Linked DNA regions of Homo sapiens. The protein of the gene in region 1 purifies or fractionates together with the protein of each later gene. This does not show direct contact. Each region holds a gene or a part of one and is shown in the gene's direction. Other genes may lie near its edges.

The links. The genes of interacting proteins can lie anywhere in the genome.
Region 2: the proteins of CHD1L (region 1) and DEK purify together in Homo sapiens (affinity purification with mass spectrometry, with the first as the bait; one large-scale study listed by BioGRID). This does not show direct contact.

The regions. Positions count from the first base shown.
Region 1 is NC_000001.11:147,287,595-147,291,247, forward strand, and holds part of CHD1L (chromodomain-helicase-DNA-binding protein 1-like), read left to right. Parts: intron 1-40; coding exon 41-139; intron 140-3,653. UniProt on the Homo sapiens protein: ATP-dependent chromatin remodeler that mediates chromatin-remodeling following DNA damage.
Region 2 is NC_000006.12:18,233,421-18,237,073, reverse strand, and holds part of DEK (protein DEK), read left to right. Parts: intron 1-473; coding exon 474-622; intron 623-3,653. UniProt on the Homo sapiens protein: Involved in chromatin organization.

The DNA.
Region 1 (3,653 bases):
TCACCTCCTATAGATGAAAATTTTCTCTTTCTTCAAACAGATGACTCTGGCCACTGGGGCAGAGGTGGTTTATTTACAGCTCTGGAAAAGCGATCCGCTGAGCCAAGAAAAATATATGAGCTGGCTGGGAAAATGAAAGGTAAGAAGCAAAGCAGAGGGAAAGGTTAAGGGTGGAATAAGAGAGAAGAGGACACCTAAGACTGTATCGTGAGGGTTACACAGCACTAGATAAGGAATTAGAATAACCAGTTGGGGACTGAATTCTGTCATAAATTAGCTACTTGTTCTGTGACTTCAAGGCATTCCTTTACCTTTTCTGTACCTGTTTCCTCATCTGTGATTTGTGAATAATACTTGTTCTGCCTACTTCATAGAACTGTAGTAAGCATAATAAATGTGTGTATTCTGAAAAATGTTGATCCCTGCATACATGTTAAAGTATTGGAATGGGCTGGACACAGTGGCCCATGCCTGTAATCCCAGACTTTGGGAGGCTGAGGCAGGAGGATTGCTTGAGGCCAGGAGTTTGAGACCAGCTTGGGCAACATAGTGAGATCCTGTCTCTACCAAAAATTTAAAAATTGGCTGGATGTGGTGGTGCATGCCCGTAGTTCCAGCTACTCAGGAGGCTGAGGTGGGAGGATCACTTGAGTCTAAGAGGTTGAGGTTGCAGTGAGCTGTGATTACACCACTGTACTACAGCCTGAGTGAGAGTGAGACCCTGTTTCAATAAAAAAAAAAAAAAAAAAAAAGAAAAAGAGAACTATTGGAATAAACATGAAGGAATATGTCATGAAAATATCAAAGATCTATGGGAAGCCGGGCGTGGTGGCTCACAGCTGTGATCCCAGCAATTTGGAAGGCCGAGACGAGGCAAGGAATTCAAAACCAGCCTCACCAATATGGCAAAGCCCTGTCTCTACAAAAAAATACAAAATTAGCCAGGCATGGTGGCACATGCCTGTAATCCCAGCTACTCAGGAGGCTGAGGCAGAAGAATCACTTGAACCTGGGAGGTGGAGGTTGCAATGAGCTGAGATCATGCCATTGCACTTCAGCCTGGGTGACTGAGCAAGACTGTCTCAAGAAAAAGACCTATGGGAGAGAAATTGGACATACCATTAAAATGCTGACAAGAACTCGGGTTTGGTGCTGAGTGGAATGAAGATGTGTTAAGAGGTCAGCACAACCTTGGGTATAACACTCCCTGGAGACAGAAATAAAGCTGTTGGGTGCCAGGGGAACTTAGAAGCCTGAACAATATTGTCCTTTGGCACAGAGAAGGGAAAAAGGCACCTCCTTTTACATCCAGAAATAACAAAGTGGCAAGAATAAAATTATTATTGTGGTGATTTTCTGGAGATTGAAGGACCTTGTCTGATAGAGAAGGGCCCTCCAGATTCCTTAGATATTGTTTTTTCCTAATTCTGCCCAGTTCTCTATGGTGGAAAGGGATATAAGAACTTAGAATGACTACTTTTTCTAGTAAAACAAGTTACTGAAAGAAGGGTTTAATGTGTGTTGAAATAGTCAATCCAGATCTAGATGCTGATTGGGCAGTTGGCAAAGCAAAACCCAGGGAAGGTCAGAGCTGGAGGTGCAGATTGAGGAGTCCCTGTTTGGAGTCTGTGTTTAAAATCATGTGGGAGAGAGGATGGAGAAATGAGAGGCAGAGAACAGACCTGGAAAACACCTCTACTTAGGACTTGAGGCAAGAAGATGGAATTTCTGACAGAAGGAATTGTCAGACAATTAGGGAACCTTGTGCGGTATTTTGAGGTACAAGGGAGGAAAGTATGTCAAGAAGGCAAAGAAGTTCATGGTATTAGACACTGAAGTGAGGATGAATTGGGAAAAGGCCATGGATTTTGACCCAAGGTTGCTCACCTTGGAGCACTTTGAGGAGAGTGGGAAGCTCAGACTTAAGGCCTGAGGGCTCAGGAAGGAAATGGAGATGAGAGTGTGCAGTTTTCTCTGAAGGAGGATTGAAGCAGGTTGCAGCAAAGTAGGTGAAACTGTGGATTCCAATTCCCAGGGAAGGCTTCATGGAGGTCCTGGGCCTGGAAAGGTGGGTTGAATTTGAATAGGTGGAGAGAAATGGCAAGAGGATCCCCAACTGCTCATTACAACACTTACTATTCCTTGTCTGTGGGTATTGAAGGACCCAGGCAGTTAGCCTGTTCCTTTGTGTGGAGGATGGCGTACAGGCCATGCAGGCCAGAGTGGAGGGTTTAGGCAGAAGAATAGAGGAGAGTTTCGTTTTCATCAGCGGCTTGGGCCACATCATAGAAGACGTCACATGATTTGTCCAGGGAGATGCCATTCTGCGCAGAACCTTATCTAATGGAATGGGTAATAGCTGGTCGTTTTGGGGGATTTGATCAAAAGGATGGCATAGCACAACCAGTATTTTAGAATGACTGAACAAAAAGTTCAAACTGGTATCAACCTAACCAATAGACAGGGTCTGTAAAATAAAAGGAACAAAGGTTTTTTGTTGTTTTGTTTTTGTTTTTGAGATGGAGTCTCATTGTCTGGAGTGCAGTGGCCCGATCTTGGCTCACTGCAATATCCACCTCCCAGGCTCAGGAAATCCTCCTGCCTCAGCCTCCCAAGTAGCTTTGTACCACAGGCGCACACCACCATGCCCGGCCACTCTTTTGAATTTTTGGTAGAGACAGGGTTTTGCCATGTTGCCCAGGCTGGCCTCAAACTCCTGAGCTCAAGTGGTCCACCTCCCTCAGCTTCTCCAAGTGCAAGGATTACACACATAAGCCACTGCACCCAGCCTGAGGTTTTTAAGGAGAAATGAGGAAGATTACATACTTTTTTTGAATCAGTTATCCTTGGCTACAAGGATTAGTAAGGGTGGCACCACGCCGAGGTTGGGCAGGCAGTTGATGAGCAGATGTCTTTGCAGAAGTATATTTTTATGTAAGCTTGCCAGGGCCCTTGTGCAAGGTCATGGGTTTTGTAAAATCTGTTGTGATAGTTCTTGTTATCAGACGTTTATGCATTAGAACCTTCCCTTCATGGCCTTCCCTGGCTCTATTTGTCAGAGTTTTGTTTTATTTTTTGAGATAGGGTCTCACCCTGTCACCCAGGCTGGAGTGCACTGGCGTGATCATAGCTCACCACAGCCTCGAACTCCTTTGCTCAAGAGATCCTCCCACCTCAGCCTCCCAAGTAGCTAAGACTACAGGTTCACAACACCAAACCTAACTTTTTCTTATTTTTTGTAGAGACTGGGTCTTGCGCCTTGTTGCCCAGGTTAGTCTGGAACTCTGGCTTCCAGCAATCCTCCCACCTCAGCCTCCCAAAGCACTGGGATTATAGTCATGAGTCACTGTGCTCGGCCATATATGTCAGTTTTTAACACAAGCATCTCTATTTTGATTCTAACCGCTTTCACATCAGCTTATGTAAAGCCATAGAATTAAATTAGCACATTTTTCTTCACTATCAGTTTTACTTGATTTGGATGGGGTAGGAAAATATATTATACAAACAGGTAGAGATAAAGTAGAATGTAATAATTTGAATGATTTAGGACAAGCACAAAACTACCAAAGGAATTTCAAGCTCATAGTGCTCCCTCCCCAAAGCCCCCCAGCTACCTCTGGGTTTTGTATTCACTTTCTGATGTCTACAGG
Region 2 (3,653 bases), on another chromosome or scaffold:
TAAATAAATTATTTATTGCAGTGGTGCCGTTACAGCTCACTGTAGCCTTGAACTGCTGGACTCAAGCGAGTCTCCTATCTTGGCCCCCCAGAGCACTGGGTTTACAGGCTTGGACCACTGCCCTTGGCCTGAAACCAAGTTTTGACTGCGACCCGTCACACGAGGTCGGGTATGGAATTACCTCCTGGTGGTGTCATGTTGGTGCTCTGAAAAGCTGGATTTTGGAACATTTCAGGTTTTGGATTTTTGGATTAGGGATGCCTAACCTGTATACCAGTTTTTTATAGTTTTTGATTTTTCAAATTGACTAAAATTTGTATGCATGTTTTATAGGTAACTGTAGAGTAGTGATTTATAATTTTTTTGATCCAGTACCCCTTTGAGAATCTGTTGAAAGCTTAAAATTCATCTCAGCCTTTGTTAAATGTTAATTTACTATGTAAGAAAAATTATTATTATTATATTACTTTTAGAAAGTGAGTCTGAGGATAGTTCAGATGATGAACCTTTAATTAAAAAGTTGAAGAAACCCCCTACAGATGAAGAGTTAAAGGAAACAATAAAGAAATTACTGGCCAGTGCTAACTTGGAAGAAGTCACAATGAAACAGATTTGCAAAAAGGTAATTAGACAAATGTTTAGATTATTTTGCTTTTGCTAGAAAAATTCTTTCACTTATCTCTGAATTTGAAGCTAAATACTTACGTGCATTCACTTATTGAAGAAAGATTTATTGAACTACTATATGCCAGATCTCCTTACAGGTGCTGGGATACCACTTAAAATAGTCAAAGTCTCTGTCCTAATAGAGTTATTTTATAAACAACATTAAAATGAATAAAGTTAGAGTGAATAAAATTAAAGTGACACATTCCAAACCACATAGGAAACTTTTTCTGATCTGTAGGTTGTTTCTATTGATGTATCCTTAGTTTATGTTAGTTTAAAGAAGCAGAATCTCATGAACCGTCTTATTCTCTTCTTAGTGTGATAAATGAGCTGTTATAGATTAGGTTCTTAACTCAGACTTCTGCAGCGTCTTTCTAATATTTCTAATACTTCTCAGGAAATAAAGTGGCCTTGTCTTGAATATGATTCCATAGGGATTCTATGGAAATTTTAGAAACTTGTCTGTTGGGGTAAAATAAAATTACAATTTGGAATGTACCAAAAGTGAAATAGTCTGTGCTTTTTTAAAGGACATTGATTATTATTTTGTTCATTCATTCACCATTCATTGATTCTCTACTACATTTCAGGCACTGGGCTAAATGTTACAGGTAGAAGCTAGATGTGGTGGCTCACGCCTGTAATCCCAACACTTTGATAGGCTGAGGCAGGAGGACTGCTTGAGGCCAGGAGTTCAAGACCAACCTGGGCAGCATAGTGAGATCCCGTCTCTACCAAAAAAAAATTTTTTTTAATGTTACAGGTGGAACCAGAGAAGCCATTACTTAGCTTTCAAGAGGAGCTTACAGTCTAGTGGGATGGAAAGAGATAAATATTTTAGTAATTAAAATATTGTAAGCGAGGGCTGTGTTAGAATATGGAAGGTACTGCAGTGCCACAGAACAAGCACCCTACTTGAGGCTGGGGGAATCTGGAAAAGCATCTTGGAAGAGCTCTTAACTGAATTTCCTAGTGGAGCATCACCCATTCTATACAGTTGAGGAACAATAACACATTAACCAAAACAATAATTGAAAGGAATAGTATTAGTTCAACATGTCTCAAGACTAGGATTGGAAAGAAGTCCTCACAGAAGTTAGGAGAAAATATTAGAGTTTTGCAGATCTTAAATATGCCATGTTAGAGTTTGAGTTTCTTCCTGAAATAAATGAGGAATTCAGAGGCTATGTAGATTATTGAGATTTAGCAGGGGCATAACGCAATCATATTTTTATTTTTAAAAGTTATCCTAGAAACATTAAGAACAATGCAATAGCAAAGGATGAGATGAGAGAGGCAGGACACCCAGTTATATCATCATTAAAATGACAGTGTGGAGTGGAGAGGAAGTCAAAGAGAAATTAGTTCTGTCCATTAGAAGGATTTTTGTGAATACCTTCATGTAAATTTTTTAAAGGGATTAATAACATGGAGAGGTCAGGTGAGAAGGAACTGACCTGTTTTGGAGTCTGCAATTAGGAGACGATGACATAGGGTGGTAAAAGCAAGAGTTATTAATGAATAGTGAGGAAAATGAACAAAGTAACTTCTGTTTCAAGCAGCTGTCTTTGGAAGGAAAATAGTAGGTAAATGGGAGTAGGTGAGAAAGTATTTTTAATGGGTAGTAGGGGTGGAGGGGAGAAAGCAATTTGGTGGGAAAGGAGAAGTTACAGGAGAGGTGAAGGGTGGTCCTGTGGAGGCAAAATTAAGAACCATTGATGAATCCAGATACAACTGGAGGGGAAAGTGCTGTCAGAAAATTGAAGGAATTCATAATAATGGCTTTTTGGCTGACAGTAGCAGTGTGAGACACTTGAATAAGGAGATGAAACTGCCATTGGTGGAAATGAAAGGAGAGAGCCTGACTGGGAGCTCCAGGGGGAGGAGCCTTTGAAGATGAATGCCATGAACTGAAAATGAGACCAGTCTCTTCAAAGTTATTTTCCCACAGCAATCTGTAGTCTGGGCTTAACCATAGAAAAATGAGTGGTTAGACCAATTCGGGATTGGGGTTTTGCAGGGAAAGAACAAGGGGCAAACAATTTTTTTCTTTTTTTTAATACTTTTAAGTTCTAGGATACATGTGCACAACGTGCAGGTTACATATATATATATATATATATATCCATGTGCCATGTTGATGTGCTGCACCCATTAACTGGTCATTTACATTAGGTGTATCTCCTAATGCTATCCCTCCCCCGTCCCCCCCACCCCACAACAGGCCCCGATGTGTGATGTTCCCCTTCCTGTGTCCAAGCGTTCTCATTGTTCAATTCCCACCTATGAGTGAGAACATGCAGTGTTTGGTTTTCTGTCCTTGCGATAGTTTGCTGAGAATGATGGTTTCCAGCTTCATCCATGTCCCTACAAAGGACATGAACTCATCCTTTTTTATGGCTGCATAGTATTCCATGGTGTATATGTGCCACATTTTCTTAATCCAGTCTATCATTTGGGTTGGTTCCAAGTCTTTGCTATTGTGAATAGTGCCGCAATAAACATAACATGTGCATGTGTCTTTATAGTAGCATGATTTATAATCCTTTGGGTATATCCCCAGTAATGGGATGGCTGGGTCAAATGGTATTTCTGGTTCTAGATCCTTGAGGAATCGCCACACTGTCTTCCACAATGGTTGAACTAGTTAAAGTCCCACCAGCAGTGTAAAAGTGTTCCTATTTCTCCACATCCTCTCCAGCACCTGTTGTTTCCTGACTTTTTGATGATCTCCATTCTAACTGGTGTGACATGGTATCTCCTTGTGGTTTTGATTTCATTTCTCTGATGGCCAGTGATGATGAGCATTTTTTCATGTGTCTGTTGGCTGCATAAATGTCTTCTTTTGAGAAGTGTCTGTTCATATCCTTTGCCCACTTTTTGATGGGGTTGTTTGATTTTTTCTTGTAAATTTAAGTTCTTTGTAGATTCTGAATATTAGCCCTTTGTCAGATGAGTAGATTGCAAAAATTTTCTCCCATTCT